2 linked regions of the Homo sapiens genome follow. Changing the gene in region 1 together with any one later gene gives a genetic interaction. Each region holds a gene or a part of one and is shown on either strand. Other genes may lie near its edges.

Region 1 (15,913 bases):
GACCCACCAACCTCGGACTCCCAAAGTGCTGGGATTACAGGTATGAGCCACTGTGCCCCGCCTATCCTTTACTCTTTTCTTTTTTCTTTTTGAGACAAGGTCTCACTCTGTCATCCAGGCTGGAGTGCAATGGTGTGATCTCAGCTCACTGCAACCTCCGCCTCCTGGGTCCAAGGGATTCTTGTGCCTCAGCCTCCCGAGTAGCTGGGATTACAGGCGCACACCACCACGCCCAGCTAATTTCTTTGTTATTTTTTTGGTAGAGACGGAGTGTTTCACCATGTTGGTCAGGCTGGTCTCGAACTCCTGACCTCAGGTGATCTGCCCATGTTGGCCTCCCACAGTGCTAGGATTACAGGCGTGAGACACCGCACCCAGCCTCAACTCTTTTTTTTTTTTTTTGGAGACAAGAGTCTTGTTCTGTTGCCCAGGCTGGAGTCCAGTGGCACGATCTCAGCTCATTACAACCTCCACCTCCCGGGTTCAAGCAATTCTCCTGCCTCAGCCTCTGGAGTACCTGGGACTACAGACGTGCGCCACCATGCCCAGCTAATTTTTTTTTGTATTTTAGTAGAGACAGAGTTTCACCACATTGGCCAGGATGATCTTGATCTCCTGACCTCGTGATCCACCTGCCTTAACCTCCCAAAGTGCTGTGATTACAGCCATGAACCACCGTGCCCAGCCAAAACTGTACTTGTCTCCTTCAAGCTGGAATCGAACCAGCAACCTAAGGACGTCTCCTACTGAGGAAGTAGCTATAGTCCTCTGCTCTACCAGCTGAACTATTGAAGGGACCTTAACTCTTGATATCAGAATTCAGTCTTATTTTTAAGATTTAAGAAAAATGGGGAAAAAAAGGAAAGGATTACTGTACAAAAATAGCATATGGCCTGCTCTGTAATTAATACCCTGTGACATCCCTCCTTTAGTCACTGCAATGGCAACAGGAACAAGTTGGTATGCCTGCGTTTGCCTACCTTAAAATGTTAACCAAGGTTCTGTGCAGATTTAGGTATTCTGCTGTGTGAACTCATTAAAGCGGCACAAAAGCAGCAAGTGCACCCTGCTCACCAAAGGTAATGTAGCCAATGTTGTCACCCACAGCGGCGTCTGTGTCTTTCAGCTCCAGAGGAGGTTCCCTGTGGCTAAAGAGGACCTGTGGGGCTGTGTGGCTGGCTCTGCGTCCTTCTTTGAACTCCTGCCAAGACAAAGCAAAAGCAACCAGAAGAGAAGTGGGTGTAAGATGAGTGGCAACTCAAGCTATAGGGTTTGTTCTATGTGGTGTGACCTTTGTAGCCCTCCAGACCAGCAGGAGGTTAAAAATAAACTACACCAAACCTGAAATATGACAAGTGCTAGCTGCTACCACTACACTTCAGATTCAAACGGGAGAGACTGCAAAGTACTTAATAAGTCAGATCTTCAAAATGTGATGAAAAGTAGTGATAATCCTTTTCCTTTGCACTAACATAGGTGATAAACTACCATACTTTCTCTGGGCTCTGGGACTTTGCATGAGTCTTTTTTCACTGAGGATCCTGTTGCTATTTAGAATTCATCAATAAAATCTTTAGAGCAAACTTAAGCTCTTCTTGCGGACAGAAGACAATGGAATGAAAGAAGCTGAGTTGTCTTGGTGCTCATAAAGGAAGCCCTTCCTTCTATGTTCCAATCTCCAAACCTGAAGCTTCTACAGTCCATACATTCCTATGTAAATAGACAAGTAATACAAGGCTTCTCTCTCTCAGCCAGATCTGCAAGAACAGAAGTAGATTTTCTAGCAATGCCAGTAAAACTGGATAATCCAAATTCATCAAGTGGGCCTTCCAAGATGATAGACAGCAGGAGGATGCTGCCAAGGACTCTCCAAGGTCTCTTGTTTTAGGAGTTCTGAAGGCATGGTTACACAGCCATGTGGCCTGCGTGCCCTTCTACTGCTGCTCAAATACTGCCTCCTAATACCATCTCCAACAAACCCAGGCAGGTACTGCTCTCTTGCTGGAGCTGCCATGTCTTTTCTACAAACCTCTACTATGATATTTTACCATTCATTAATGTATCTGGCTCCCCTACCAGGTTATGAGTTCAAATCAAAGATCCTGCTTAATTTATCTTTGTAATTTATTCTTCTGTCTTTCAAAGAGGCTATGCAGCACATGCCTTGCTGAGAGAAAGCAAGTGCTTCTACCCTAGCTGGTTTAGTATCATCACACTGTACAGGAATAGGCAAGGGCTGTTTCCAGTTGCAGGCAGGAAGAATAAACACTGATTAGCAAGCCCTCTCGACAATTAGTGGCAAAAGAAAGATGATGGCTGAGGAGCCCCAATGCCCAGCCTGGGACCTCACCTATTTCACAAACTGCCTCTCATGCTAACACTACCAAGCTTTAAGTAGGAAAAGAAATGACCATCAACTGGGTTAGATTAGTCCCCTTTTGAACAGATTTTGTTCCCCGAAGGAAAAATATCCAAAAAGGAAGGGAAGGAGTCAAGATTATCCCAAATGGAAATTTCTAGAGCAAAGCTTCTAAAATCGCCCTTCTCTAGAAAACATTTTTTATTCTACAAAGGGGTTAAGAAGCTTTTTAACTTTTACTGGTTTTACTTTTCGGTATTAAGGAATTAAACAGAACAGATACGTAACTGTTGGCATTTTCTTGTGTCTGTTAAGTGTCTCCAAGGCTCTAATTCACAGGTACATGTGGTATTCACAATGAGATGGGGTATTTATAAACCAGTGGTGACTTATTAGCACTCATTAGTTTTGTATATGGAAAATAACATATTTAAGGCTCGGTCAACGATACGTTTCTGGCTTGGGCCTATTCTTTCTTTCTTTTTTGAGACAGGGTCTCACTCTGTCACCCAGGCTGGAGTGCAGTGGCGTGATCTTGGCTCACTGCAACCTCCACCTCCTAGGTTCAAGTGATTTTCATGTGTCAGCCTCACGAGTAGCTGAGATTACAGGCGTGTGCCATCATTCCCGGCTAATTTTTGGCCTTTAAAGTAGAAACAGGGTTTCACCATGTTGGCCAGGCTGGTCTCAAACTGGCCTCTAGTGATCCACCTGCCTAGGCCCCGCAAAGTGCTGGGATTACAGGCGTGAGCCACTGTGCCTGACTGGGACTATTCTTTAGATTCTCTGATGTCTTTGCTTCTCCTCAGTTCTCTCTCCTAAATAAAGCTTAAACAAACAAACACACCCAAACAGCCCTCCATCTTCATTGGCATCTTTGTTATACGTAATCAAGCAATATTGCCTTTTTACTCTCCTTCTGGCTAGGATGTCTTTTGAGCATCAGATTATTTCTCTCTTCCAAAGTACTATTTATCATAGGAAGTTCGGAATAAATCCAAATATATACAAGGCATTTAGCATATGATAAAAGTAGCATCTTAAATCAGGGGTGTAAAAAAGGAAATAATTGCCACTGGGACCACTGGATAGCCATTTAGGAAAAAAAGATCATTCTTTCATACCATACAACAAGAGGAGCTCTCAACAAATAAGAAAAAATCATGTATAAAATATGTAACTGTAAAAATACTCAGAAAATAACAGGTAAATTTCTTTATAACCTTCGAGTAGGGAAGGGCTTTCTACCTATAACTCAAAATCTAGAAGCCATAAAAGGCAAGACTGATTAATTTGATTATGTAAAAACAAACTTCCACATGGTGGAAAAAACCCCACAAAACACGGTCCAATGACAAACTGGAGAAAATATTTCAACTCTTAATCACAGATGAAAGGCTACTCTCCCTAGTATGTAAAGAAATTGAGAAGCTCAATGACCCTACAGAATAATGGGTAAAGGACATAAAGAGACACTTCATAAGAAAATCAAATGGTCTATAACATTAAGAAAAGATGTTCTGACCTCAGAACATCTTTTTATGTCATCATAAGCAGACACAGATACCACCTTTAACCTATCAGATCAGGAGAAATCCACAAGTTTACAACATACTCTGGGAAAACAGGCACTCCTCTCCATCACTGGTAGATGATAAAATGCCACTACCCTGATGGAGAAGAGTTTGGCAATGTCTACCAAAATTACTGACTTGGACTCAGTGTTCCCAGTTCAGGAAAATATCCTACAGACATACCCACACATGCAAACAGGCAGAAAGGGCCCTCAAAATACATCTTTACAACTGCCTAAGAGGCAGGTGCTTGTGTCTTTGTCCCTGAACATATAAAAACCAGTGGTTTCCACTTAACTTTTCCTGGTTATTTAGTTACTAACTTGACTTTAAAATCTTAGAATATGAAAAGAATTCTAGTTCACCATAAGCTAATCTCCAAAAGCATAATTACTGGTCCTATTGCTTTTCATGGAATAAGCATTGAAATGATGGCTTCTATCAGACATTCTCCAGTACTCAGCTGATATGCCCATACCACTAGTGTGGAGGAATACACTTCCTGTCTTTTTCTGAGAGGTAGAAAGCATCCCTCAGAGCCTGCTTGCCAAATGACAAAAGCAAGACTTGAATTCTGATCAGGCTGGATGTGCATGCTGGAAGGGAAAGGCCACAAAGGCTGGCAACAAGTAGACTAGTGACCATGAGGAACTTCAAATAGTGTTCTCAGGGTACAACTTTCTGTGCCAGGTGTCCCTCATTCTTTTTCCGAGAAATTTACAATTCCAGGCCTAGGAAAAAGTTCTATTTATTTTTTGGGAAAATCCAGCAAAAGTCCAGTTTCCGATTGTCATTTCCAACAAATTACCTAAGCCTCTGAATTTGGAAAGGGTGGCAGGGCAGATGACTTCCTGAGTCTAGCTAGCACTGCACCAGGCCAGTTACTATCCAGAGATCCTGTTAGTGCCAAAATGCAAAAGAGGCTTTGTCTTTCCTTTTAGGTAAGTGCCCTACCACAGGTACCCTGAAGGAGGCATTTAAATCATATGCCAAAAAAGAATACACAAAATTCTCCTAAGGAACAAATCTCCGGTACACTCTCCAAGATAAGATCTGTTTAAAGTATAAAAATAAGTTGTTTCCTGGAATAAAATGGAATAAGATTGGTAAAAAACCAGCCAAATCTAAATATATACTTCAGAGCTTTTAAAATTAGTTTTGTTACTCTGGATTTAGCCCAATTTCTGAGCTACTGCATTTAATTCCCCTGTCAATTCTGCATAAAAACACATGAAATGCCTCTCTAGAGGCTTACTTTTAGGACCCAAGAGATACATGTATATTTATATATTCCTTCATCAAGTTCAGCACTAGCAAATGCTGAAGTGTCAATATTCCAATTTTTCTGTATAGTGACTCCCAAACTAGTTTCTGATTAATTAGCCAAAATACAAAAGCCACTAGGGATGGAGCAGTTGAGAATATCACTTTTGAAGATTTTCCTAGCCACTTAGAAGGCTATGCAAAGTATCTTTACTGTTAAGCACAGCTGTCTTTCAACTCTATTTGGCAAAAGAGATTCTGCTTCAGAATTTAAAAATCTTTACCACCCTGCCAAGGAACAGAATGAAGGTAGTAACGTTTTCAAAAAATTTTACCATTGTACTAGATTTTGAATGCTGAGCCATCTCAGAAGAAACCAGCCTGAATGTCACTTGACCAATGAACTCTCATGTCCATCCTAGAGGCAGCAACTAACTGGCCAGCAGACTGGTACACAATGACCTGAATGCAACTACACCAAAAATCCAATTACAAAATGCCCTGCTAACTCTCAGGACTCTCTTTTTTTTTGAGTCGGAGTTTCGCTCTTTTTGCCCAGGCTGGAGTGCAATGGTGCAATCTTGGCTCACTGCAACCTCTGCCTCCCAGGTTCAAGAGATTCTCCTGCCTCAGCCTCCCAAGTGGCTGGGATTACAGGTGCCTGCCACCACACCCGGCTAATTTTTTGTATTTTTTTAGTAGAGACGGGGTTTCACCATGTTGGCCAGGATGGTCTTGACCTCTTGACCTCGTGATCCGCCCACCTCGGCCTCCCACAGTGCTGGGATTACAGGCGTCAGCCACCGCGCCTGGCCTCTCATGACTCTTCTTAAGATGAGCTTCTTGTGAGGGAAGTACTCTATGGTGACCCATCCAAACTCAGGCTCAGTCTGTCAGTTCAACAACTCTACCTGTTCATGCGTTATCTACTACCAAATAATTGGCTATACAGTCCATTCTGAAAAGACCTTAGGACCAAACCAAGAGCAGCCACCTTACTAGAAATCTGAGGAAACACAAGAGGTTAGGGTTAGGAAACCTGACAAAGTTTTAGGTCAAAGACCCCACAGTAGGAAGGATGCATAACATTCATTCATAGTTAGTATGTTTAATTCTCAACTTACCCTTTAGTTCTGTCCTGCAAAACTAAACCACTGAGAAAAAAAATATCAGGCTGGGCGCGGTGGCTCATGCCTGCAATCCCAGCACTTTGGGAGGCTGAGGCGGGCGGATCATGAGGTCAGGAGATTGAGACCATCCTGGCCAACACGGTGAAACCCCATCTCTACTAAAAGTACAAAAATTAGCTGGGCGTGGTGGCGCGTGCCTGTAATCCCAGCTACTTGGGAGGCTGAGGCAGGAAAATTGCTTGAACCCAGGAAGCGGAGGTTGCAGTGAGCTGAGTTCGTGCCACTACACTCCAGCCTGGCGACAGAGCAAGACTCCACCTCAAAACAACAGCAGCAGCAACAAAAAATATTCACTGAGTTTTGTGGGAGTTGTCTATTAAATCTTCAACAAATTCTAACGTCAAGGCTGGGCATGGTGGCTCATGCCTGTAATACCAGCACTTTGGGAGGCCGAGATGGGCATCACCTGAGGTCGGCAGTTTGAGACCAGCCTGACCAACATGGAGAAACCCCGTCTCTACTAAAAATACAAAATTAGCTGGGTGTGGTGGTGCATGCCTACAATCCCAGCTACTCAGGAGGTTGAGGCAGGAGAATTGCTTGAACCTGGGAGGCGGAGGTTGCAGTGAGCCGAGATCACTCCATTGCACTCCAGCCTGGGCAACAAGAGAGAAACTCCGTCTCGAAAAAAAAAAAAAAAATTCTAACATCAGTAGAGTTGCTAGATCTCTTTCCTACGCTCATGGTATGTTTGGGTGCAAAGGTATAAGTCGCCATGCATGGGTTTCCCCCAAGATGTCTGCTCCATACCTGCATGAACACCTTTCCAATGACCACATCGTCGTCATCCTTAAACACTGTGCTGAAGACTACTGTGACTCTGTCCTTTTTAGACTCAACATACCTGAGAGGAACAAAATCCATGAGGATAAGTACAGAATCAGAATGGGGTTTTGTCAATAACTTGATCTACAAGTACATCAGAAGGCTAAAGTCATAAATCTCTTAAATCATAATATAAAGGTGTGCCAAATGAGATGATATTTATGGTCAACAAAGTCAGTGCACAAAATGAATGCCCTAAGAGAGGCAGCAGATGGAAATTATCAGAAGTAGATTTTATTGACTTGTAAATATAACATGGACCTATGGTCACCCTGCCTGCTGATTATCCAGGCTATACTCTTAAACATGACTCAGAACAGTGGTGCCTTAAAGGAAAGCACTGGATTCTCTTTCCACCATCTGTCAGCTCTCAGTATCTGGAGAGTAGGAGGAGTGGCTGATTTCTGCCCTATCATCTACTTCCTGGCTTAAGACATTTTATGAGAAAAACATTTTCACGCAATACAGCTGAAAGTTTGACCAAGCCATATTTCTTTCAGTAAGTGCCATGGTGGTGTAGCAGCCATATCCAGGCTTCAGGACCAAATTCTATACTCACATGGTCTCATCATCCCTATAATGGATAACTGCCCTGTTCTCTCCTTCCTTGCCCTCTTCTTGGAATTGGAAGTATTTTTCAAAGACAGAGGCAAAACAATTTCGCTTCAACATGCCAGCTTGATGCACAATGGAATCCTTGGATGCCGGAAGATTTTCAAGGTCATATAGCAAAGAGACATTGTATCCTGGAGGGAAAGAAAAAACAAGAAACAAAAAACAACCCAGCAGTTACATTTAAAAAAAAAAAAAAAAAAAAAAGCAGCATACTATCTATACCAAGTAAACAGAGACTAGAGGCAACTAAAAAAATCTTTTTTCAGGTTCTATTGACATTTTGTCTCATTATCTGTACTTTTAACCTGGGTAGAATATAGTCTATTTCCATCTATCTCACAGGGCAAAATGAGGTGAAATAAAATCTTAATTTTTATAAGATTCTTGTAAATATATATAATTAATGTTAATCAAAAATTTGAATCAGTATCAAAGATGACTAATTACAAATATGTAATGGGAGAAAGTCAGAACCTGGGAACTCTGATTGGAAATGTACCCTTCTAGACACAGTTGTAAAGGAGCCACATATATTTCTCTGATAGTTTAATGTGCCAAGTATCAGTATGGCCAGCAAATGGGTAGCTTTGTGATAATAAGATAAACCCTTCTACGTGCCACTGCAAACTCTTTATGAGGTGGCAGGGTAGAAAAACCAACTACCTGTTCATACATATACCTCCCCAATAGCTTTTATTGGTATATATTGTACAATTTTTAAAACATTTTACTTCATTTGATCTCCATAACCACCTTTGAAGTCTGCAGGCTAGATAAGGTTACTGTTTTGCAGAGGGAAAAGGAGATTCAAAGAAGTGACGTGACTTGCCAAATGCAGCATGACACATAAGTGTAGGGCACTCTATTTTGAGTCGAACAGAACTGGGTCCAAATCCTAGTCTTGTCATTTTGTGACCTTAAAAAAACTGCTGGGTGTGGTGGCTCACACCTGTAATCCCAGCATTTTGGGAGGCCAAGGTGGGCAGATCACCTGAGGTCAGGAGTTTTGAGAGCAGTCTGGCCAACATGGCAAAACCCTGTCTCTACTAAAATCACAAATATTAGCCAGGCATGGTGGCGGGCGCCTGTAATCCTAGCTACTTGGGAGGCTGAGGCAGGAGAATTGCTTGAACCCAGGAGGTGGAGGTTACAGCGAGCTGATATTGCACCACTGCACAACAGAGCGAGACTCCAGCTCCAAAAAAAAAAAACAAAAACAAAAAAAATTGCCTGACTTGTTAATTTCCTCATCTGTTAAAAAAAAAAAAAAATTGGTGGTGGGGGGCAGGTAGGGTGGTCTGGGCACAGTGGCTCAAGCCTGTATTCCCAGCACTTTGGGAGGCCAAGGTGGGTGGATCACCTGAGGTCAGGAGTTCGAGACCTGCCTGGCCAATATGGCAAAACCCCGTCTCTAATAAAAATACAAAATTAGCTGGGTGTGGTGGTACACGCCTGTGGTCCCAGGTACTCCGGAGGCTGAGGCAGGAGAATTGCTTGAACCCGGGAGGTGGAGGTTGTAATGAGCTGAGATCGCGCCACGGCACTCCAGCCTGAGCAACAAGAGTGAAATTCTGTCTCAAAAAAAAAGAAAAAAAGAAAAAGGAGCAGGGCAGGGGGTGCGGAGATAGGGGAGAATGTTGTGAGCATTAAAAGAATGTTCAATACTTAAAGTGTGTGGAACATGACAGGTCATCAATACGGGTGCAGAACATGGACTGAAACCATTGGATGACCTGCCTTTTTACAGCATGTCCACTATGAATTCCCAGAAGCCGGCTGGAACACTTGATTATAGAATCAAATGATTAATAAGTGTCAAACTGCCTAGAGATGTTTTTGCAAGAATATTTCTACATCACTGAGGATCATTTTATATTCTAGGCAACTGACGGGAATAACTTCACCAGAACTGTATGGCTTTCACACTTCTAAGTATCTGAAACCTCATTACTATTTCATTTTTTCCCAAAAGCATTCCTGAGATCTGTATTTTTTTTTTTTTGAGATGGAGTTTTACTCTTATTGCCCAGGCTGGAGTGCAATGGCATGATCTCGGCTCACCACAACATCCGCCTCCCAGGTTCAAGCGATTCTCCTGCCTCAGCCTCCTAGGCAGCTGGGATTACAGGCATGCGCCACCAGGCCTGGCTAATTTTGTACTTTTAGTAGAGACGGGGTTTCTCCATGTTGGTCATGCTGGTCTTGAACTCCTGAATGCAGGTGATCCGCCCGCCCTGGCCTCCGATAGTGCTGGGATTACAGGCATAAGCCACCGCGCCCGGCTGAGGTCTGTGTTTTTTGTTGAGCATGGGCTCTTCGGGAGGATGGGCTAAATCTTTGCTCTAGATAATGCTTAGCACATTTTATTTAATACTGGAGAGGCACTCCAGTATTAAATAATATCAATCATCATTCTATTTTGGGTACTTGAAAACCAAATAAGCACACAGATTACAAGGTTAGATTAAAAAAGAAAAGATTTAGAGCTGAGGTTTGCTAGTTTTAGGAAGCCAAATAAGAGCAAATAAAACTATAGCTAAGGTAAAGTCTGTCTTTAAGTAAGGCTTCTAACATGATGAACAGAATATACTGAGGATGAAGAGAAGTAAAAATCTAGTATAACTTGCTGAGTTTTCCAAACGTGCCTAGATAAACCCATTAAAAAAGAGGAGGAGAGACTCTACGGTCTTTTTTTTTTTTTTCTCGAGACTGAATCTTGCTCTGTCGCCTAGGCTAGAGGGCAGTGGCGCAATCTCAGCTCACTGCAACCTCTGCCTCCTGGGTTCAAGCGATTCTCGTGCTTCAGCCACCTGAGTACCTGGTATTACAGGTGGCTGCCACCATGCCTGGCTAATTTCTGTATTTTTTATAGAGACAGGTATCTCATTATGCTGCCCAGGCTGGTCCTGAACTTCTGAGCTCAAGCAATTCACTCACCTTGGCCTCCCCAAAGTGCTGGGATTACAGGTGTGAGCCACTGCACCTGGTTGAGACACTACTTTCACACACTTTTACATTTCACACTTCTATGAAGACAGGGTCTGCAATCTGGCAATGTCTATGATTTAGTGGGAGGTAGAAGGAGGCCCAGGGACAGAAACATAAACTTTCCATGTCAGGATGTTGGCTGTGACAAGCATGCCCAAGACTTTGGACATGATTTTTCTGTTCTAGATCTGTTTGTTTCTTTCTTTTAATACCTTGATTTTGCCAAAAGCCTACAGTGTTATCTTGGCTTTTATTTCTGTGACACATTCATCCCGCCAATTTGGAGATTAAAAAAAAAAAAGGTGCTGGGTATGGTGGCTCATGCCTGTGATCCCAACTCTCTGGGAGGCGGAGGCTGAGGTGGGTAGATTGCTCAAGGCTAGGAGTTTGAGACCTCCTTACTCTGTTTTGGCAGTATGGGCAGCAGACAGTGAGACTCTGTTTCTACAAAATATTAAAAAAATTAATTGGGTATGGTGGCATGTGCCTGTAGTTCCCAGCTACCGGAGAGGCTAAAGCGGGAGGATTGCTTGAGCCCAAGATTTGGAGGAGGCTGCAGTGAGCTATGACTGTACCACTGCATTCCAGCCTGGGCAACAGAATGAGACTGTCTGAAAAAATAGGTGAGGTGATGAAATAAGCTAGCACAAGTAACTGCTGTTAAGAGTGACAGAGAACTTCCTTCTTAGAAGACTTTTCTAATCAAGGTACCAAAGTTGTAATAGTTGAGTAAAAAATATTATGTTCCAATGGTCTTACTACCTGGTTCTCACTTTGGGGTCCTGCTAAATGCCTCAGAATTTGAGACATGCCACTGAATCACAGGGTAAAAAGGCTGTTCAGTTTTTCCACTTTAAACCTCCTTTTTAAAGCAGTATAACATAGCTGTTCTATTCAAGGATGACACGGTGCCTTTCAATTCCTCTGGCCATGAATGTTGAGACAACCTATTAGAAGACTGGATTAAGAAAGGGTCTGATTTTTATTACTTGAAATCACAAGAATAGTGTGGTGAATATTCCTCTTCTTTCTCCAAATATGTAGTATGCAGAATTACTAAGGGCCGAGGGTGGGAATCAATGTTTGCTCATTCTTTTCAAAGCCATTTTAATCACCATGAACAAACAAATGTGGCCCTCTGGCTGAAAGATTAAGTAAGAGTCATGTGGCCCCATCAAGTAAATGTTAAAAATGTCACACATCAATTTTGTACCTCTACTGTGTTCCATATTGGACAAAGCAAAGCCCCTTAAAAGCTATTTTTATGGACGGAGTTGAAATTAGGAATGGGCTCATGCAGAAATATTTGTAATAATATTTAAACGAAATCCTTTGGGTAAAAAAAGCATAATATAAAAAGGACACCTCTCTTCCCATGTCATTCCATAGTTGCTCACATGACTACATACCTGATTCTGGATTTACCAAGAAACTCCCGTACACCCTCTTTAATAACTAGAAAATAAAAACAAAACAAAACCAAATACGTTAATCCAAAGGCCATGATAATTTCATTATTTTTAAAGTACTGCACTTGCCAAGCTCTTCCTAAGTTGGCATTCTTCCTAACTTTCATTTGGTGGATGGGAAAGTAGAGACAGAGGGGAAGTGGATTTAGTCACCAAACAAGTCACAAAACTGAGATGAGTATCTTTTTATGCCTGGGACAGAGTGCAATGGCGCGATCTCGGCTCACCACAACCTCCGCCTCCTGGGTTCAAGTGATTCTCCTGCCTGAGCCTCCCAAGTAGCTGGGATTATAGGCATGCGCCACCATGCCCGGCTAATTTTTTTTTGTATTTTTAGTTGAGATGGGGTTTCTCCATGTTGGTCAGGCTGATCTTGAACTACTGACCTTGGATGATCCACCCGCCTCGTCCTCCCAAAGTGCTGGGATTATAGGCATGAGCCACTATGCCTGGCCGAGAATCTTTAATCAAAGCTCATCCTTTTTTAGGACTTGACTACACCCTTAATATGTTCTCTGTTCTCCTCCAGATCCTACATTGTACTTAATCATGTTTTGTTTTCAAGAGAGCAAAAGGATGCCAAATTCCAAGTGAGAGAACAGATTGTTAGTTATCAACCTAAGTACAGACTGAGCCACTAACCCAGGTGAATAAAGAGAAAAAACCAGGACTCTCGGGAACTGATCTGTTTGTCTGCTGATCTTGTATGCTTTAAAATTACTCAGTGCATAGCCAGCTCTTAAGGCAAAGGACAGTCAATAATGAAATCTTAGCTAGCTATTAATACTGGTGTCCAGAAGGTTGTATACTCTCCATGTCTTTCCCCCCAAACCAGAACCTACTGCTGGCTACTTTCCAGGTTTTTGAATTAAATGAAAACAACAACAAAAAAAACCCAAAAAACCAAGAACCCCTTTTATACCTTCTGCTATGGTTTGAATGTCCTTTCGAAAACTCATGTTAAAAATTATGATTTTTTTTTTTTGAGACGGAGTCTTACTCTGTTGTCCAGGCTGGAATGCAGTGGTGCAATCTCAGCTCACTGCAACCTCCATCTCCTGGGTTCAAGCGATTCTCCTGCCTCAGCCTCCTGAGTAGCTAGGACTACAGGCATGCACCACCATGCCTGGCTAATTTTTCCACACCCAGCCAAAATTTACGATTATTATTATTGTTTTGGAAGCAGGGTCTTACTCTGTAGTCCAGGCTACAGTGCATTGATACAATAGCTCACTGCAGCCTTGAACTTCTAGGCTCAAGTGATCCTTCTACCTTGGCCTCCCAAAGTACTGGGATTACAGGAGTGAGCCACCATGCCTGGCCACATGTTGAAATTTAATTGCCACTGTGACGGTAATAGGTGATTAGGCCATGAGGGCTCTGCCCTCATGAATGGATTCATGTTGTTATAGGGGAAGTTGGTTTGTTATTCACAAGAGGGGCTGTTAAAAAAGTGAGTCTGGGCTAGGTATGGTGGCTCATGCCTGTAATCCCAGCACTTTGGGAGGCCGAGGCGGGGTGATCACGAGGTCAGGAGATTGAGACCATCCTGGCTAACACAGTGAAACCCCATGTCTACTAAAAATACAAAAACAAAAAAATTAGCTGGGCATGGTGGCAGGCGCCTGTAGTACCAGCTACTTGGGAGGCTGAGGCGGGAGAATGGCGTGAACCCGGGAGGCAGAGCTTGCAGTGAGGTGAGATCGCGCCACTGCACTCCAGCCTGGGTGCACTCCAGCCCGGGTGACAGAGCAAGACTCCGTCTCAAAAAAAAAAAAAAAAAAAAAAAAATTGAGTCTGGCCCTCTCTTGCCCTTCTGCCTTTTGCTACAGGATGACGGGAAAGGGCACGAAGGCCCTTGCCAGATGCTGGTGCCACGCTCTTGGACTTCCCAGTCCCCAGAACATGAGTCAAATAACATATTTTCTTCATAAATTATTCAGTCTGTGGTATTCTGTTATAGCAACAAAAAACAGACTGAGACTCCCTATTTTTTTCTCTGTCACCGTGACTGCTTCACCTGGTGGAAACTGCTTCCAGAATGACATGGCTTAAGAAACAAACATTTTATTTTAATTTAATTAATTCTTTTTTTTTGAGACGGAGTCTCACTCTGTCACCCAGGCTGGAGTGCAGTGGCGTGATCTCGGCTCATTGCAACCTCCACCTCCTGGGTTCAAGCAATTCTCCTGCCTCAGCCTCCCTAGTAGCTGGGATTACAGGTGTCCACCACCACACCAAGCTAATTTTTATATTTTTTAGTAGAGATGGGGTTTCACCATGTTGCCCAGGCTGGGCTCGAAATCCTGACCTCAAGCAATCCACCTGTCTTGGCCTCCCAAAGTGCTGGGATTACAGGCGTGAGCCACTGCGCCTGGCCTACTTATTTATTTATATACAAAGACAGGGTCTCACTACGTTGCCCAGGCTGGGCTTGAACTCTTGACCTCAAGCGATGCTCCTGCCTTGGCCTCCAAAAGTGCTGGGATTACAGGAATGAGCCCCCACGCCTGGCTGAACAATAATTTCCTAATATTCCACATATTTATTTAACCATTTTCCTATAGCTGGAAGAAATTTTCAACCTGCAAGACTACATTTTCTTACACAAGGGCAAAAGATAAATAATGCCACCTGTAGTTCCTATTTGGTGATTGCACAGCCACTGTGAGGTATTTCTTTTACCGAAGAGGAATTGAGAGGAGGGGCTCAAGGTCACGAGAGTTTCTTGGTGGCACAGAGAGACTTGACCTTCAGGTGTCTGATATACCACTTCTTTAAAAAAAAGTAACATGCATATCCCAAGAATTTGAAACAGCATGCGACCTCTGAGCTACAAGTCTGTGTTGCACGTACTATTGGTATTTCGAGGAAGGGGAAATCAGATGTGGTGGGGATTTAGTTTAAATCCCTAAGTCCCTAAGATTTAGTTTAATTTCAAGCTTACTAAGTTAATATTCTGAGATCTAAGAGGTACTGAGAGCCAAATTTATATCATGTTCAACTGCTTTGCTCCCTCCCCTTGGTAAAACCAGCCAACACTTCCTTGTCACTTCACTTGCACTTTTAACCATGATTCACTTTTCAGTTTGTACCCCCTCTCCCAATGACACCAGGAGATGGGTGGAGGCAACCTATCACTCATCACCATTACCTTCCCACTCTAGCAGCAGAGGCATTCCACCTTTAAAAATGGCCTGTGACAAAGTAATAACCTTCCTGTGGTTATCATGGGTTGGTCACTGTTTAACCAACCCAGGGAGCCATTTACTGTGCACTCTGCTCCAACACTATGAATGTTACTTACTCCACCCACTTGAGTGGGTGGGGCTGGTTCTTTGACCCTTGTGGTAGCTACAAGAATAGCAATGTGTTCTGGAGCTCCATCGTAAGAAAAGCACAGAATGGAAAGGAGATTTAAGAAATCTAGCTTAACTCTTTCTTTCCAGGATTATTATTATTGCATTTAGATCTTTTCCTTTTTTTGAGGTGGAATCTCACTATGTCGTCCAGGCTGGACTTGAACTCCTGGGCTCCAGCAACTCTCCCCACTTGAACCCCTCAAGCCAACTGTGTGAAGTCCCAACACACAGTTGGCACTACAGGTGTGTGCCACTGTGCAGGCTTGCA
Region 2 (15,913 bases), on another chromosome or scaffold:
ATGATAGGGCTATTTTTTATTTATTTATTTATTTATTTTTTTTTAGAGACTGAGTCTTGCTCTATCACTCAGGCTGGAGTGCAGTGGCATGATCATAGCTCACTGAGACCTGGAACTCCTGGGCTCAAGTGATCCTTCCACCTCAGCCTCCTGAGTAGCTGGGACCATAGGCTCATGCCACCATGCCCAGCTAAATTTTTTGTTTTTTGTAGAGACAGGGTCTGGTTGTGTTGCCCAGGCTGATCTTGAACTCCTGGGCTCAAGCTATCTTTCCACCTTAGCCTCCCAGTGTACTGATATTATAGGTATGTGTGCCTGCCCATCCTTTTACCTTGTATTTATTTTTTAAATTTTTATTTATTTATCTTTTTATTTATTTTGAGACAGACTCTTGCTCTGTCACCCAGGCCGGAGTGCAGTGGCATGATCCCGACTCACTTAAACCTCCATCTCCCAGGCTCAGGCGATTTTCCTGCCTCAGCCTCCCAAGTAGCTGAGACTACAGGCACATGCCATCACGCCTGGATACTTATTGTATGTTTTGGTAGAGATAGAGTTTTACCATGTTGGCCAGGCTGGTCTCAAACTCCTGACCTCAAATGATCGCCCGCCTTGGCCTCCCAAAGTGCTGCGATTACAGGCGTGAGCTACCACGCCTGGCCCCTGGCCCATCATTTTACAATTTTTAAACATTTTATAGAAATAATTTTAAGTTTACAAAGCAGCAAAAATAAAATAGTATGAAGAACACTTATATAACTTTTGCCTAGATTCACCTGTTGTTAACATTTTATCCCATTTGTTTTAGCATTTGTACTCTTATCTAAATAAAATTGTAAATGTGTATATATACACGTTGTTTACATACCTGTCTATAGTGTGTACATATACATACATTATTTATAAGCTATATAATGCACACATATAATCACAACATTTAATATATATTATGTATTGATACAGTACTTGAATCTGTCATCCATATTTTAATTTTGGATGACCTAATGTCCTTTCTTGTTTTTTGAAAGGACATAGGCTGGGCGCGGTGGCTCACGCCTGTGATCCCAGCACTTTGGGAGGCTGAGGCAGGCGGATCACGAGGTCAGGAGATCGAGGCCATCCTGGCTAACACGGTGAAACCCCGTCTCTACTAAAAAAATCCAAAAAACTAGCCAGGCTTGGTGGCGGGCATCTGTAGTCCTAGCTACTTGGGAGACTGAGGCAGGAGAATGGCGTCAACCCGGGAGGCAGAGCTTGTAGTGAGCCGAGATTGTGCCACTGCACTCCAGCCTGGGCGACAGAGTGAGACTCCGTCTCAAAAAAAAAAAAAAGGACATGAAATTTTTAAATATTTCACTTGTGTTATCAGTTTTATGTAATTTAAGTGGGTTTAACAGTCTTTATATTATTTTGCCTCAACTGTTAAATCATATGTGTTTATTTCTACATCTTCTCTTTTATAGCTTTATTTAGTTTTATAGATTTAACCACTTTTTTTTTATACTTTATGTTCTGGGATACATGTGCAGAACGTGCAGGTTTGTTACACAGGTATACATGTGCCATGGTGATTTGTTGCACTCATCAACCCGTCATCTAGGTTTTAAGCCCTGCATGCACTAGGTATTGGTCCTAATGCTCTCCCTCCCCTTGCCCCTGACCCCTCAATAATGTCCTTTATATCAGTGTTTTTCCCTTCGGTCTAGGTCAGATATTGCATTTAGTTATTTATTATCTTTTTAGTCTTTTAATCTGAAATATATCCATAGCCTTTTTTTAAAATGTTTTCTGACATCAACCTTTTTGGGAGAATTACAGTGTATCCCTCCTCCCTCCACCCCAGGAATGGGCTGTTCCCCATTTTTTGTTTGTCTGATGTTTCCTGATGGTTAGATTGAGGTAGGCATTCCTGACTAGAAAACTGCATAGGTGATACTTTGTCTCTCCAAGAATGTCTCATCTGGAAGCACATGGTGTCCATTTATTCCTCATTGGTGACATTAATTTTGGTGACCCAGTCAATATTTCTTTTCTGTGTTGTCTTCCCTTGCAACTACTATCTAATCTGTAGGGATATACTTAAAGACAGTACAAATACCCTCTTCCTCATCAAAATTTCTCCAAAGATTTTGCATCAATTGATGATTCTTGCATAATTAGATCTTTCATTGATGCTTGCAAAATGATGCTTTTAATTCTAATACTTCTTGCATATTCACCAGTGAGCCTTGGTATTCTACTGCCAGCAAGAGCTCTCCTTCCTTTCCCATTTGTTTGTCTTTTTACTAGCAGTACAAACTTATGGATTCCTTTTTTCAATGGTTTATAATTAATTATTTAACTATTTTGCTGCTTAAATTATCCGATGTTAGGCCAGTGAGAGCCTCTCCAAACTGTGTCCTGTGTCTTTGTGGCATGCTCCCATTTGATTTTGCTCCTCACTTTCTAGTACAACAAGATATTACAGGTTCATCATGCACCTGCTCTGCCCAGTCCTGGAACTGGCCATTTCTCGGCGGAGCTTTGAGGAGCTTTTTAGGGGAGAATGGTATTAGAACCCAAGATCTAGGTGCAAGGTTACTGAGCTCCTTGTTACTGAGATGTCTTTGCCTCTTGTCTTTTTCAGTGGACAGAGCTAGAAAATATATGCTTGTATCCTGTGTGTACACATACATATATACAAATATACATCCATACATATATACACACACAATAATTTAAATACAGATGTGCACACAAACATAGGTTTGCTGCATTTCTAACCATGATTTTAAGATCTTTTCAGTTTTGTAATGTAGGGAATTATTTACATACAGGTTATACATTTACAGGCAGATTTGTAAGTGTTGCACCCGTTTTATAAAAAGAGCTGGTGAATTAAAGAGTAATTGTATTTTTCTTTCTTTCTTTTTTTTTTTCTGAGATGGGATCTCACTCTGTTGCCCAAGCTGGGATGCAGTGGCATGATCGCAGCTCACTGCAGCTTTGACCTCCTGGGCTCAAGTGATCCTCCTATCTCAGCCCCTCAAGTAGGCTGGGACCAAGGCGTGTGTCACCCCGTCAGGCTAATTTTTGTATTTTTTTTGTAGAGACAGGATTTCGCCATGTTGACCAGTGGTCTCAAGCTCCTGGGCTCAAGTAATCCGCCCGACTCGGTCTCCCAAAGTGCTGGGATTACAGGCATGAGCCACCGTGCCTGGCCAGAGTAATTGTATTTATTATATGTATGGTCGTGTCCTCTGTTCCTTACATAGTTGTTTTTGTTTGTTTATGAGACAGGGTGTCACTATGTTTCCCAGGCTGGTTTTGAACTTCTAGGCTCAAGCAATCCTTCCACCGTGGCCTCCCAGAGTGCTGGGATTATGCCACTTTGCCCAGCCAAATTTTTAAGTTTTAATTACTGAATGAGTATTACTGATATACTTGTGTTTCACCATTAGGATTTGAGTTCTTGATATAGTTCCAAGCATCATTTTTTATATAACTTACACAGATGTCTTTCCTTATCAGTGGGAAAGAGTGGAACTGAATGTTTGAGCCTGTTGTAACATTATTTTAATATAATAAGAAATTTTTAGATTTTTTTCATAAAACGTACTTATTTTAAATAGTTACAAGGGAGCAGAGTTTAAATCTTGCTATGTGAGACTTTTGTCATGATTCTTCACTAGAAGTTTGTGATTTAAAGATTTGTGATGAAGAAATTCCACTATGCAAGTGGCATGGCTTCCCAGTTATAAAATCTCAGCTCTTGAGAGGGCCTCAGAGCTAACTTCTACCCCAGGTACTGTGCCTTGCACAACATAAGGCAAGCCAGCCTCTGACTGAACATGCCTGGAAAGGAGTTCAATATCTTACTTAACATCTCTCAGGAAGATGTGCCATCTTCAACTGGACCATTGGCTTCTGAGTAAGCTGTGTTAGGCCTGGGCTAGACCTAATGGTTTATTATTGGTGGAGAGAAAGATCTGGAAATACTTGAGGTTATTACATACTAGATTAGCTTCTAATGTGAACCATTTTTCTTTTAACAGTGATAAATTATTATTTCCGAAGTTAACTGTTCCCTTGGTCGTGATACACACTCGATTAACAAACATACTGTTGTATTTTTTCCAGTTTTGTTTGGCTATGCCACCACAGTCATCCCCAGGGTCTATACATACTATGTTTCAACTGTATTATTTGCCATTTTTGGCATTAGAATGCTTCGGGAAGGCTTAAAGATGAGCCCTGATGAGGGTCAAGAGGAACTGGAAGAAGTTCAAGCTGAATTAAAGAAGAAAGATGAAGAAGTAAGCCATGGCACTGTTGATCTGGACCAAAAAGGCACTCAACTAGGAATAAACACTCTACAGAGGTTTCTCAGTGGCCCCATCTGTGTGATATGCGGGGCTACACAAAAATAGCTTCTTTTGCTTTGTTCTGTTCTTATACCTGTCTGTGATCTGACTTGGGGTTGGTGTGAATGTAGTAGAGAAAGGAAGCTGACAGATGAATACTGAACACAGGTAATCAGTTTCCTTAATTAGGTTGATTATAAGCTCCTGAAAAGCAGGAACTGTATTTTATAATTTTACCTGTTTCTCCCGTGGTGTCTAGGATAGTAAGTGAGCAGAGCAGTAAATACTGTTTGGTTTGTTCAGCTGAGGAGAAACGGAAGAATTGAGACTATAGCATTTGTTGCTGTGTGAGACCAGTGGTTCAGAGGGGAGGTTTGGGGGTCACATAAATGTAGTTTTTTTGGAGCATATTTCATAGAATTTAAACACTTAGAAAAGTCAAGTGATTTGTGTGCTATTTTGATTTGCTTCCTGTGCTTACTTTCATTTGTTTATTATTTATTTTAGTTTCAACGAACCAAACTTTTAAATGGACCGGGAGATGTTGAAACGGGTACAAGCATAACAGTACCTCAGAAAAAGTGGTTGCATTTTATTTCACCCATTTTTGTTCAAGCTCTTACATTAACATTCTTAGCAGAATGGGGTGATCGCTCTCAACTAACTACAATTGTATTGGCAGCTAGAGAGGTGAGTGATATTTGAGAGGAGACTGTTTAAAATGAAACGTAATTATTATTACTTTGTTCCAGAAAACACTGGACACACTGAAGTGGGCCACAGCATTCCTTCATATGCAAGACTGTTTTACATCTGATAATTCAGCTGCTCTCTAAAATTGGCCTTCTCCCAGTTCCTGCTACCTGCAGGTGAAATTCTTGTAACCAAGCTCAGTTGGGCTCTTTTTACTCATCCTTTTCCCTTTGGTTTTGCCAAAATGATGCCGTGGTACTTGTCATCTTAGCTTGGTTTTCTTATCATAGAACTTTCTTTTTTATAGTTGTTGAGAATATAAATCAGTATAATATTATTGAAGGCCATTTTGGTGTTTAATACCTAAAGCCTTAAAAATGTGTAGCTAGCCGGGCTTGGTGGTATGCACCTGTAGTCCCAGCTACTCAGGAGGGTTGAGGTGGGAGGATTGCTTGAGCCTGGGAGGTTGAGGCTCCAGTGAGCTGTGTTCGCGCCACTGCACTCCAGCCTTGGTGACAGGGAGACCCAGTCTGAAAAAAAAAAAAAAGTGTATAGCTTTTCGTTCATGTGTTACACTAAAGAAATTGACTGTTGCACAGACTACTTATAATTATTGTAACTTAGTAAAAATTTAGAAACAGCCTAATAATCCAGCAGAAAATTGGTTCAGCTGTTTACAAATCTCTGTGTAGCTCTTAGAATATTCACTCTTCAACATCATTTCAGTGACATGGAAAAATTTTAAAAGGAGGTTTACTTTTAAAATATAAAAAGAAGGCCGGGTGCCGTCCCTCACGCCTGTAATCCCAGCACTTTAGGAGGCCAAGGTGGGCGGATCACCTGAGGTCAGGAGTTTGAGACCAGCCTGACCAGCATGGAGAAACCCCTACTACTAAAAATACAAAAATTAGCCGGGCAAGGTGGCTCATGCCTGTAATCTTAGCTACTCAGGAGACTGAGGCAGGAGAATTGATTGAACCGGGGAGGCAGAGGTTGCAGTGAGCCTAGATTGCACCACTGCACTCCAGCCTGGGCAGCAGAGTGAGATGCTATCTCAAAAAATTAAATAAATAATATATAAAAAGAACAAAAAAGACTTAAGGAAATAAAAACATTATTTTTATTTCAGTGCTTATCTATCGTTGCGTACTGCTATTATGGGTAATTTATTTATTTACTTTTTGGTAGGGGTGGGGTCTCACCATGTTGTCCAGCCAGTTTTGAACCCCTGGCCTGAAACTTCCTGCCTCAGCCTCGCAAATAATCCTTCTGGGATTATAGGCGAGAGTCACTGCTCTGGCCTAGGTGACTTGTTTGTTTCTGTGTAGGAACTTTTTGTTCAAAAAGTCTTAGCCCAAGAATCCTAAGTTCTGGAGTGGGAAGCTAGAGACCTCAGCTCATCTTGTAGCTTTTACTCTTCAGATGAAGAACCTGACCCCCAGAGAGATCGGGTGACTTGTGTGAGGGAGTAAGCTGGCTGGCTGTGGCCTTCTTCACAGTTGTTCAATGCCACTTATTTAAAACATGCCCATTGGTTTTTTATTTTTTAATTTTTCTTTTGATGGGAATAGCAAGGTTTTATATGAGGCGCCTGTCATTGTTCACACAGATTTATTAAGATTTCATGTGGAGACGGTTGTGGAATGGAATACTGCTGCCACTTTTCAACCTCTTTTTCATCTTAACTGATACTATTTCTTATCTGTGTTTATATCAGATTCTCTTTTTATAAGAGTAAAATTGTTTCTAATTCCTTGGAACTATCATAAAAGAACAAGTTCTTTAATTATAGGCTGTGGTTTAAAATACAAGACAGTTGAAGGCCAGGACTAAGATAGATGGGAAAGGCTATTTTGTCAGGGAAGCCTCAAAAATGCTGTATTTTGGGGAAAAAAAATGGAACTCTGATTTTCATTTGATTCTCATAAAACAAACTTTCTTTAAAAATATCACTTTAATTAGCTGGGCGTGGTAGCGGGTGCCTGTAATCCTAGCTGCTAGAGAGGCTGAGGCAGGAGAATCACTTGAAACCGGGAGGCAGAGGTTGCAGTGAGCCGAGATGGTGCCACTGCTCTCCAGCCTAGGTGACAGAGTGAGACACTATCTTAAGAAAAAAAAATATATATATATATACATATATATTTATTTATTTATTTATTTTATTTATTTATTTAATGGCTGTACCCTATATTCTTCTTGATTTCTAGCCTTTTATTGGCTCTCAGATTGCCAGAGTTGGGACTCAATAGTAAGTAACCATTTTGTTGAGGTGGTAGTGATTCTACCAGGGTGAGTTATCATGACAGCAGAATCACTGCGTTTTTCTCTCTACTCTGTGGCATAGACTCTATGCCATAGAGTGACGTGTGAAAGGCTTGAGGCTCCCTACCTACGAGACACCCTGGTCCATTCTAGCAGTATGGCACGTGCTGACTGGGTTTTGAGTCTCTTGCTGTAAAATCACATTACTGCACTTCCCTGCATTTTCTCATCCAAAAATGGGGATTACCTGCTTTGTGGATCGGTTTGCAGATGAAATAACACACGCAGGGTATCTAGCATGGTCCCCCACATGGCACATTCAGTGTTAGCCACACTTCCATACTAACTGCCCTGCGGGGATATTTAATGAGCTCTTAAATGGCAGAAATGTTGTGTCTTTTCCTGTTCCCTTAGTATTCCTATTTTTGTTGGTAATTTTTCTTATGAACCATGCAGTTGTCTAGTTCAGGCCATTTTAGTATGCAGTTTTATCTTTGCTTCCAACATGATTTAATGTTCCCAAATTGGATTTCACATAATCCTAGTGTCCTTTGAGACTTGAATTGGTTCTAGGCCAAAAAAGGGTGAGGGGGAAGGAAGAAATTCAGAGTCAAATTTGGCAAATAATATATCCCTGTCGTTTTGTTTTTTCTTTTTAAGACTTGGGCCAGGTGTGGTGGCTCACGCGTTTAATCCCAGCACTTTGGGAGGCTGAGGCAGGCAAATCACCTGAGGTCAGGAGCTCGAGACCAGCCTGGCCAACATGGTGAAAAATACAAAAATTATCCAGGCATGGTGGCCCACGCCTGTAGTCCCAGCTACTCGGGAGGCTGAGACAGGAGAATCTCTTGAACCCGGGTGAGCCGAGATCGCGCCACTGCACTCCACTCTGGTCGACAGAGCTAGATTCCATCTCAAAAAAAAAAAAAAAAAAAAAAGACGACTCAGTATACAAATAAAGACTGGAAAGTCCTATATTAAAGGAACTAGTTAAATACTAGTTTATTTTACTTAATCTAGTGAATTTTTAAATATTTTCTTTCTTTCTTTTTTTTTTTTTTTTTTTTTGAGACAGGGTCTGGCTCTGTCAACCAGGCTGGAGTGCAGTGGCACAATCTCAGCTCACCTCAACCTCCACCTCCTGGGCTCAAGCCATCCTCCCACCTCAGCCTTCTGAGTCTGGGACTACAGGTTCCCACCACCATGCCTGGCTAATTTTGTATTTTTTGTAGAGACAGGGTTTTGCCATGTTGCAGAGGCTGGTCTCGAACTCCTGAGTTCATGCAATCTGACCACCTTGGCCTCCCAAAGTGCTGAGATTACGCCCGGCCTAAATATTACTTTCAAATAGAACCATCTTCATGGGTAGCAGTTTATAATACACAAGTAGAATTTGGGAAATGTAGTCCCAGTCTTCCATTCTTCACAGTGGATGCTTCAGCCAGTTTCCTGTCTCTGCACACACACTGCCCGACAGCGGGCTTTCCCTTCTCCTTCAGAGCAGTAGCAGTTCCCTTTCTTCATTCCCACCCATCACAGTGGCAGCCCCCTCTGCCCTCCTGTATTCTGAATCCCACCCTTATAATATGCTTAGATTTTGCCTTTCTCCCAGCCGTTTTGTGAGCATTGTTCGTGTGTACCAATTTTTTCTCATCCTTTAAAAAGAAAAAAAAAAAGCCCCTTTTCTCAATTGTACATCGCAAATCCAACTCTTGCCCTCCTGCAGTGTCAGAGGACTTGGCTGTGATGGGAATAAGCCTTGGCTCTGTTCTCCTTGCATACTTAGCCCATGGGAACCCAGTTTCTGGCCTCACCAGGAATGTTGTTGTGCTTTGAGCTCCCTGTGGCCTTGCATGATGCCTCCGTTGGTCCTTACAGGAGGTGATTGGCTGGCCACCTCACTTGCTTTCTCCTGTGGACCCTTCTTTCTCTGTCCTTCCTTGAATGCTGCCTTTGTCCCTCATGATTATGCTATCAACATTCTTCTCTTTCTGCTTTCTCTGTAACAGGTTTATTGACTCTTTTTTTTGAGAGTCTTGCTCTGTCACCCAGGCTGGAGTACAGTGGCACAATCTTGGCTTGCTGCAACCTCTGCTTCCTGGGTCCAAGCGATTCTTCTGCCTCAGCCTCCCGAGTAGCTAGGATTAGAGACATGTGCCACCAAGTCTGGCTAGTTTTTGTATTTTTAGTAAAGATGGGGTTTCACCATGTTGTCCAGGTTGGTCTCAAACTCCCAACCTCAGGTGATCTGCCTGCCTCGGCCTCCCAAAGTGGTGAGATTACATGTGTGAACCATCCACCCACCCTGATTCAACTGACTCTTAACTTTAAAAATCACATTGGTCTTACCATACATAGTTCATCAATTGTGGGAGAGAAACTTGGGTGTCATGCTTTATTTATTTATTTTTTTTTTGAGATGGAGTCTCACTCTGTCACCCAGGGTGGAGTGCAGTGGCACGATCTCAGCTCACTGCAACCTCAGCCTCCTGGATTCAAGCCAATTCTCCTGCCTCAGCCTGCCCAGTAGTTGGGACTACAGGTGCCTGCCACCACACCCGGCTAATTTTTTGTATTTTTAGTAGAGACAGCATTTCACCATGTTTCAGTCTCCTGACCTCGTGATCCACCCTCCTCGGCCTCCCAAAGTGCTGGCATTACAGGCGTGAGCCACTGCACCCAGCCTATTTTTCTTTTTTTAATAAGAGATGGAGTCTTGCTTTGTCACCCAGGATGGAATTTGTAGCATAGTAGTGTGATCATAACTCACTGTAGCTTCAAACTCAGGCTCAAGTGATCCTCTCACCTCAGCCTCCTGAATAGCTGGAACTACATGCATGAACCACTGCACCATTATTTTATTTTTAAGAGACGGGATCTCGCTGTACTGCTCAGGCTAGCCTTGAACTCCTGGCCTCAAGTGATCCTTCTGCCTTAGCCTCCTGAGTGGCTGGCTCCACTCTGCTTGGCTCTGATATTTTTCCATAAAGCCTATCATTCATTTATCATGGAGGTATGTTAATTTTGCCTTCTTAATTTCTCTCAAATTCACCTGCTCTTTGCCTACAGTCATCTGCCCCGATCTGGGGCAACGCAGTTTCTTCCCAGGGCTGTTGCCATAGCATCGCAGTGGATCACCCTTCCTTCAGTCTTGTTCCCCTCTGGTTCTTTCTCTCCACTAGACTTTAAAAAATTTTTGAGATAGGGTCTTGCTCTGTTGCCCAGGATGGAGAACAATCATAGCTCACTGCAGCCACGACCTCCTGGGCTCAAATGATCCTCCCACCTCAGCCTCCCGAGTAGCTGGGACCACTTGTGCTTGCTAGGATGCCTGGCTAATTTTTAATTTTTTTGTAGAGACAAGGTCTCACTGTGTTGCCTAGGCTAGTCTCAAACTGCCAGGCTCAAGCAATCCTCTTGCTTCAGCCTCCCAAAGTGTTGGGATTACAGGCATGAGCCACTGCACCTGGCCTAGCGGATTTCTGAAGCATTAATCTGTTCTGTTACTTTCCAGCTAAAAACCAACAAGTGTCTGAGGACACAGTTTAAACTCCAAGATGATAGGGTCCTCCCTCACCTGGACTCCCACCTACCCTCATGACCTCCTTTTGTGAAATGCTGAAGGGCTCTGCAGCTGGTTGTCTGGTACTGCTGGCCTTTGCTTTCTATTTAGCATGTTCCTTCTCCCACAAAACAAAATCACATTCTCACTATGCCCTGTTCATTCTTCAGGACTATCTTCTGGGAAACTTTTACTACATACCCCTCTCCCCCTAATCTGAGTGTCTGCTTTGCTCAGGTAACATGTGTTCACTGGATAAATCCTTGATTCCTGGCACTGAGGCAGGGTTTCTGTTCCCAGGAAGCAGAGGCATACTATTCTGTGAAGGATTGACTGAGTTTCTCCTAATACCAAGCAGTATCTGAGGGAACAGATGTCTAGCTTAAAATCCTCCCTAGCACTTGTCATAGCAGTGCTACGTATTGCCTGTGAAGGAAGTTTAATAACTGCTGAAAGGTTCGATTAGCTTTATTTCATCAGGATTTGTTTGACTTTACAAATTGATTTGGGTTATTTCAACTTTTAGGTCTAGTCTTAAGTATAACTGGTACATATTCCTTCAAGCAGCCATTACACCTCTCATAAATTTATTATACACCTGCATTTTTATAACTATTATGCTTTTTAATTGTTGGCCACCATTTTTAGTGCTTCTGAATTGTTATGGTTCTCAAGCAGCAGTTGTCACCTTGGTTTTGAATTAATGCTGTGACGCTTGCTTCCAGGACCCCTATGGTGTAGCCGTGGGTGGAACTGTGGGGCACTGCCTGTGCACGGGATTGGCAGTAATTGGAGGAAGAATGATAGCACAGAAAATCTCTGTCAGAACTGGTAAGTCTTGAAAATTACAAATCAGATAACATTTTAGAATCACTGAGAGATTAAAGGGTGTTAGCTTTGATTATTTAAATTTCTGCTGCTGAAGTATACTTGGTTTTTCTAATTACCTACCATCTCTTATAGAGGTATTAATCCTGGTATTGCAAATACGGACTTTTTTCACCTGTGTAGAAGTTAGCAAAATACAAAGTCATTTTTATCGAATTCATAGTAGCTTCTTGTTAACATATTATCTTAGTAAAACAATTGTCATTTGGAAGTATGAGAAGTTTTTGGCTCTAAAAATGTGTCTTACAAGACTGGAATCATGTGGAGACCATATGTACTGATTCTGCTGAATATGTCCTGTGAAGCCACAGTTAGGTCTAGAGATGGAAGAATCGTCTCTTTGCTAGTCAGAAGACCTGAACATTTTCTTTTATAACTGGATTTTAAGATGAGTTATAGTTCTACTGTTGCTTGCCAGCACTGTCTGGATTTAATACAATCCTGTCATTTCTCAAAACAGTGCTGGAGAAAACCTGATTCTTAGTGTTCACAGTCAAGCATGTTAAGTATTGTTCCTTGTTATGTAAAAGGGGTTGAAGTGATTCTAATTTGTTTTCAAGGTTAGTTTAATAGATTGGAAGAATAATTGGCCGCCTCATCGGCTCCCTTTTCATTTTGTACAGTATCAAGGTATAGGAATTTTACTGTATTTGACTTTTTTTCTCTCTCTTCCAGTGACAATCATAGGAGGCATCGTTTTTTTGGCGTTTGCATTTTCTGCACTATTTATAAGCCCTGATTCTGGTTTTTAACAAGCTGTTTGTTCATCTATATTTAGTTTAAAATAGGTAGTATTATCTTTCTGTACATAGTGTACATTACAACTAAAAGTGATGGAAAAATACTGTATTTTGTAGCACTGATTTTGTGAGTTTGACCCATTATTATGTCTGAGATATAATCATTGATTCTATTTGTAACAAGGAGTTTTAAAAGAAACCTGACTTCTAAGTGTGGGTTTTTCTTCTCTCCAACATAATTATGTTAATATGGTCCTCATTTTTCTTTTGGTGCAGAACCGTTGTGCAGTGGGGTCTACCATGCAATTTTCTTTCAGCACTGACCCCTTTTTAAGGAATACAAATTTTCTCCTTCATCACTTAGGTGTTTTAAGATGTTTACCTTAAAGTTTTTCTTGGGGAAAGAATGAATTAATTTCTATTTCTTAAAACATTTCCCTGAGCCAGTAAACAGTAGTTTAATCATTGGTCTTTTCAAAACTAGGTGTTTAAAAAAAGAGACATATATGATATTGCTGTTATATCAATAACATGGCACAACAAGAACTGTCTGCCAGGTCATTCTTCCTCTTTTTTTTTTAATTGGGTAGGACACCCAATATAAAAACAGTCAATATTTGACAATGTGGAATTACCAAATTAAAAGAGAATACTATGAATGTATTCATATTTTTTCTATATTGAATAAACAATGTAACATAGATAACAATATAAATAAAAGTGGTATGACCAGTGCTTGTTTTTCCTTGTGTGTCATATAAAATTATCAGTATTGATAGGCCAATTTCTAAAGCTGATGTAAAAACACTAACATATTAAATATTTGAGATATGCCTAAAGTAGCTAAACAGGAGCCAGGCATTGTTCGAAAGCATTGTCACCCTTACAGTTCTGTGAGGTAGTAGGTACTAATATAAGGTTAAAAAAGAAAAAAACTAACTCACCCAAGGTTACATGGTAGAGTCACACCAGGCGGTTTAATTCCAGAGCCTAATGTCATTCATTATGCTAAGACTACCTCATTTTTTCATGGCAACTTCAGTCGTCACCCTCGTTTGAGTATATTTTGATTTGACTACTACTTCACCCAAGTAGCATAACAGCTGCTTTCTCTCAGCCTTTTATATTCTAGAATCATATGCAGTAACATTCCCATTAATAGCCTCACTAAATTGAAGGACAATTCTACAGAAACATCCATGTTATTTGTGTGAGGTATAATAGGAGACCCAGAGCAATTCAGGTTTATGAGCTACTACAAAGGTCCACAATGTAGTCTGCAATTTGAAGAGATTGTGAAAGAACCCAGTTAATCATCCAGCACTGTAGGATGCAGCAATTGTCCTACATGGTAACTCTGTGAGGAAGATGATAGCTACTACTGTGGAGATCTTAAGAGGAGTTTTCAGCTTAAATGCCAAGTTAGAAGTAGCACATGTTGGTAAAAAAGGTCATATTTGTAGTTTTCTGCTATAGGAAGTATCAAAGGGTAGAAAACAATGTCTGTGGATTAAGATAAACTCTGTGGTTAGACAGTCTATATTGCCTTAGATTGTTTGTTTGTTATAAAGAAAGAGTGAGGAATTCTCACTAGTATTTTTTTTTTTTTTTTTGAGAGAGTCTCACTCTGTCGCCCAGGCTGGAGTGCAGTGGTGTGATCTTGGCTCACTGCAACCTCCACCGCCCGGGTTCAAGCAGTTCTCCTGCCTCAGCCTCCCGAGTAGCTGGGATTACAGGCGTGCACTACCACGCCTGGCTAATTTTTTGTATTTTTAGTAGAGATGATGGAGTTTCGCCATGCTGGCCAGGCTGGTCTCGAACTCCTGACCTTATGATCCGCCCACCTCAGCCTCCCAAAGCGCTGGGATTACAGGCGTGAGCCACCATGCTTGGCCTACTAATACGTTTTGTTTGTTTGGAGACAATCTATCTCACTCTGTCACCTGGGCTGGAATGCAGTGGCGCAATCTCGGCTCACTGCAACCTCTGCCTCCTGAGTTCAAGCAGTTCTCCTGCCTCAGCCTCCCAAGTTGCAGGGATTATAGGTGCCCGCCACCACGCCTGGCTAATTTTTTTGTATTTTCAGTAGAGACAGGGTTTTACCATGTTGGCCAGGCTGGTCTTGAACTCATGACCTTAGGTGATCCACCCACCTCAGCCTCCCAAAGTGCTAGGATTACAGGCGTGAGCCACCGCACCCAACCGTTTTTTCTAATAACAACAGAAAAGACAATTCCTCGTAGGGAGTAGCTGGCACCATCATCGTGTAACCTCAGTTCAGGTAGCTTGGTCCCATTACTAGCTTCATATGCGAATAAGAACAGCATCGCATTCTGAGGCACCACAATCTTGTAGCAGGACATAATTCCTCTGAGAATTTTTGGTAAGTCAGACCTAAGCTATAAGGTAAAAATCGCTACTGCAATAGGCTCCATTGTTGAATAAAAGAAAGGGAAATGTCATTGATAGTGATCTTAAAATATTTAATAGTCTTTCTTTAAAATCCAAAATGTGATTCTTACAAGTTATGTGCCACATGAAGCAGGTGTTATTTTTTGAGAAATGCAGGTGATAACTGAAAAACATAGCACTGAGGTATTTTTTATTTTTAAAATTGAAGGAAACAAAGTCTGGATCTAATTATTTTTACATTTACAAAAACTGCTACTGCTTGGCTCTTTTGCTATAAGTTTAGGTTCTGAATACATGACAAGAGTATGGGAAAGAGCAGAATAATAGTACACGCAGTTTTAAAAGCTATGCACATCATAACCTGGAATAATGATTACACAGCAAGAGGCCTGAGTGGAGGTAGGCTAACAACACATTTTGACTTTCTCCTCAAAGGATAGCTTTGAAAAACAAGTGTAACCAATTGTTACACCAAATTAAAATGGCAATATTAAATCGGTAACAAAACGATCCACATTTTATACAATATTGTATTTCCAAACATACATAGGTCATGAAAATCAGAGAACCTAATATAGCACCGTTGAAACCATTCATTATCCTTCATGTGTGTATGCAATTCAGAATTTCGGCAGAAGACAACAAATGGAAAATGCCTTTCGTTTCTATAAATCATTTTGGATTTCAATTAAATCTTTGCCTTAGTAAAGGGTATTCTTATCTCAAGATCAATTAGCCGTTTTTAGCTCCACCGTTTTGGAAGTAAAAATGATGAGCTACATCTACTTTTTAATTTAAAACCAAGAACCAAGCAGTAAGGACAGCAATGTCAAGAATATCACATTGAGAACCACACAGAACATTATAAAGAATTTGGTGCATGTTTTAACAACTACCAACTGATGTTAACAATGAAAAATTTACAAAGGTAAAACTTTTTTTTTTTTTTTGCACTGACTGGTTTCAATACAGCACTGAATTTAACTCATCTTTGGGCTTCAATCTTTACATAG

What was found.
Region 2: changes in ARPC2 (region 1) and TMEM165 are lethal when combined (synthetic lethality), as found in Homo sapiens cells (one study listed by BioGRID).

What each region holds. Positions count from the first base shown.
Region 1 is NC_000002.12:218,230,708-218,246,620, reverse strand, and holds part of ARPC2 (actin-related protein 2/3 complex subunit 2), read right to left. Parts: intron 12,270-15,913; coding exon 12,224-12,269; intron 7,958-12,223; coding exon 7,771-7,957; intron 7,231-7,770; coding exon 7,137-7,230; intron 1,202-7,136; coding exon 1,075-1,201; intron 796-1,074; exon of another isoform or gene 703-795; intron 1-702. UniProt on the Homo sapiens protein: Actin-binding component of the Arp2/3 complex, a multiprotein complex that mediates actin polymerization upon stimulation by nucleation-promoting factor (NPF).
Region 2 is NC_000004.12:55,412,953-55,428,865, forward strand, and holds the end of TMEM165 (putative divalent cation/proton antiporter TMEM165 precursor), read left to right. Parts: intron 1-4,119; coding exon 4,120-4,295; intron 4,296-4,850; coding exon 4,851-5,033; intron 5,034-11,585; coding exon 11,586-11,691; intron 11,692-12,423; coding exon 12,424-12,500; 3' UTR 12,501-13,223; downstream 13,224-15,913. UniProt on the Homo sapiens protein: Putative divalent cation:proton antiporter that exchanges calcium or manganese ions for protons across the Golgi membrane.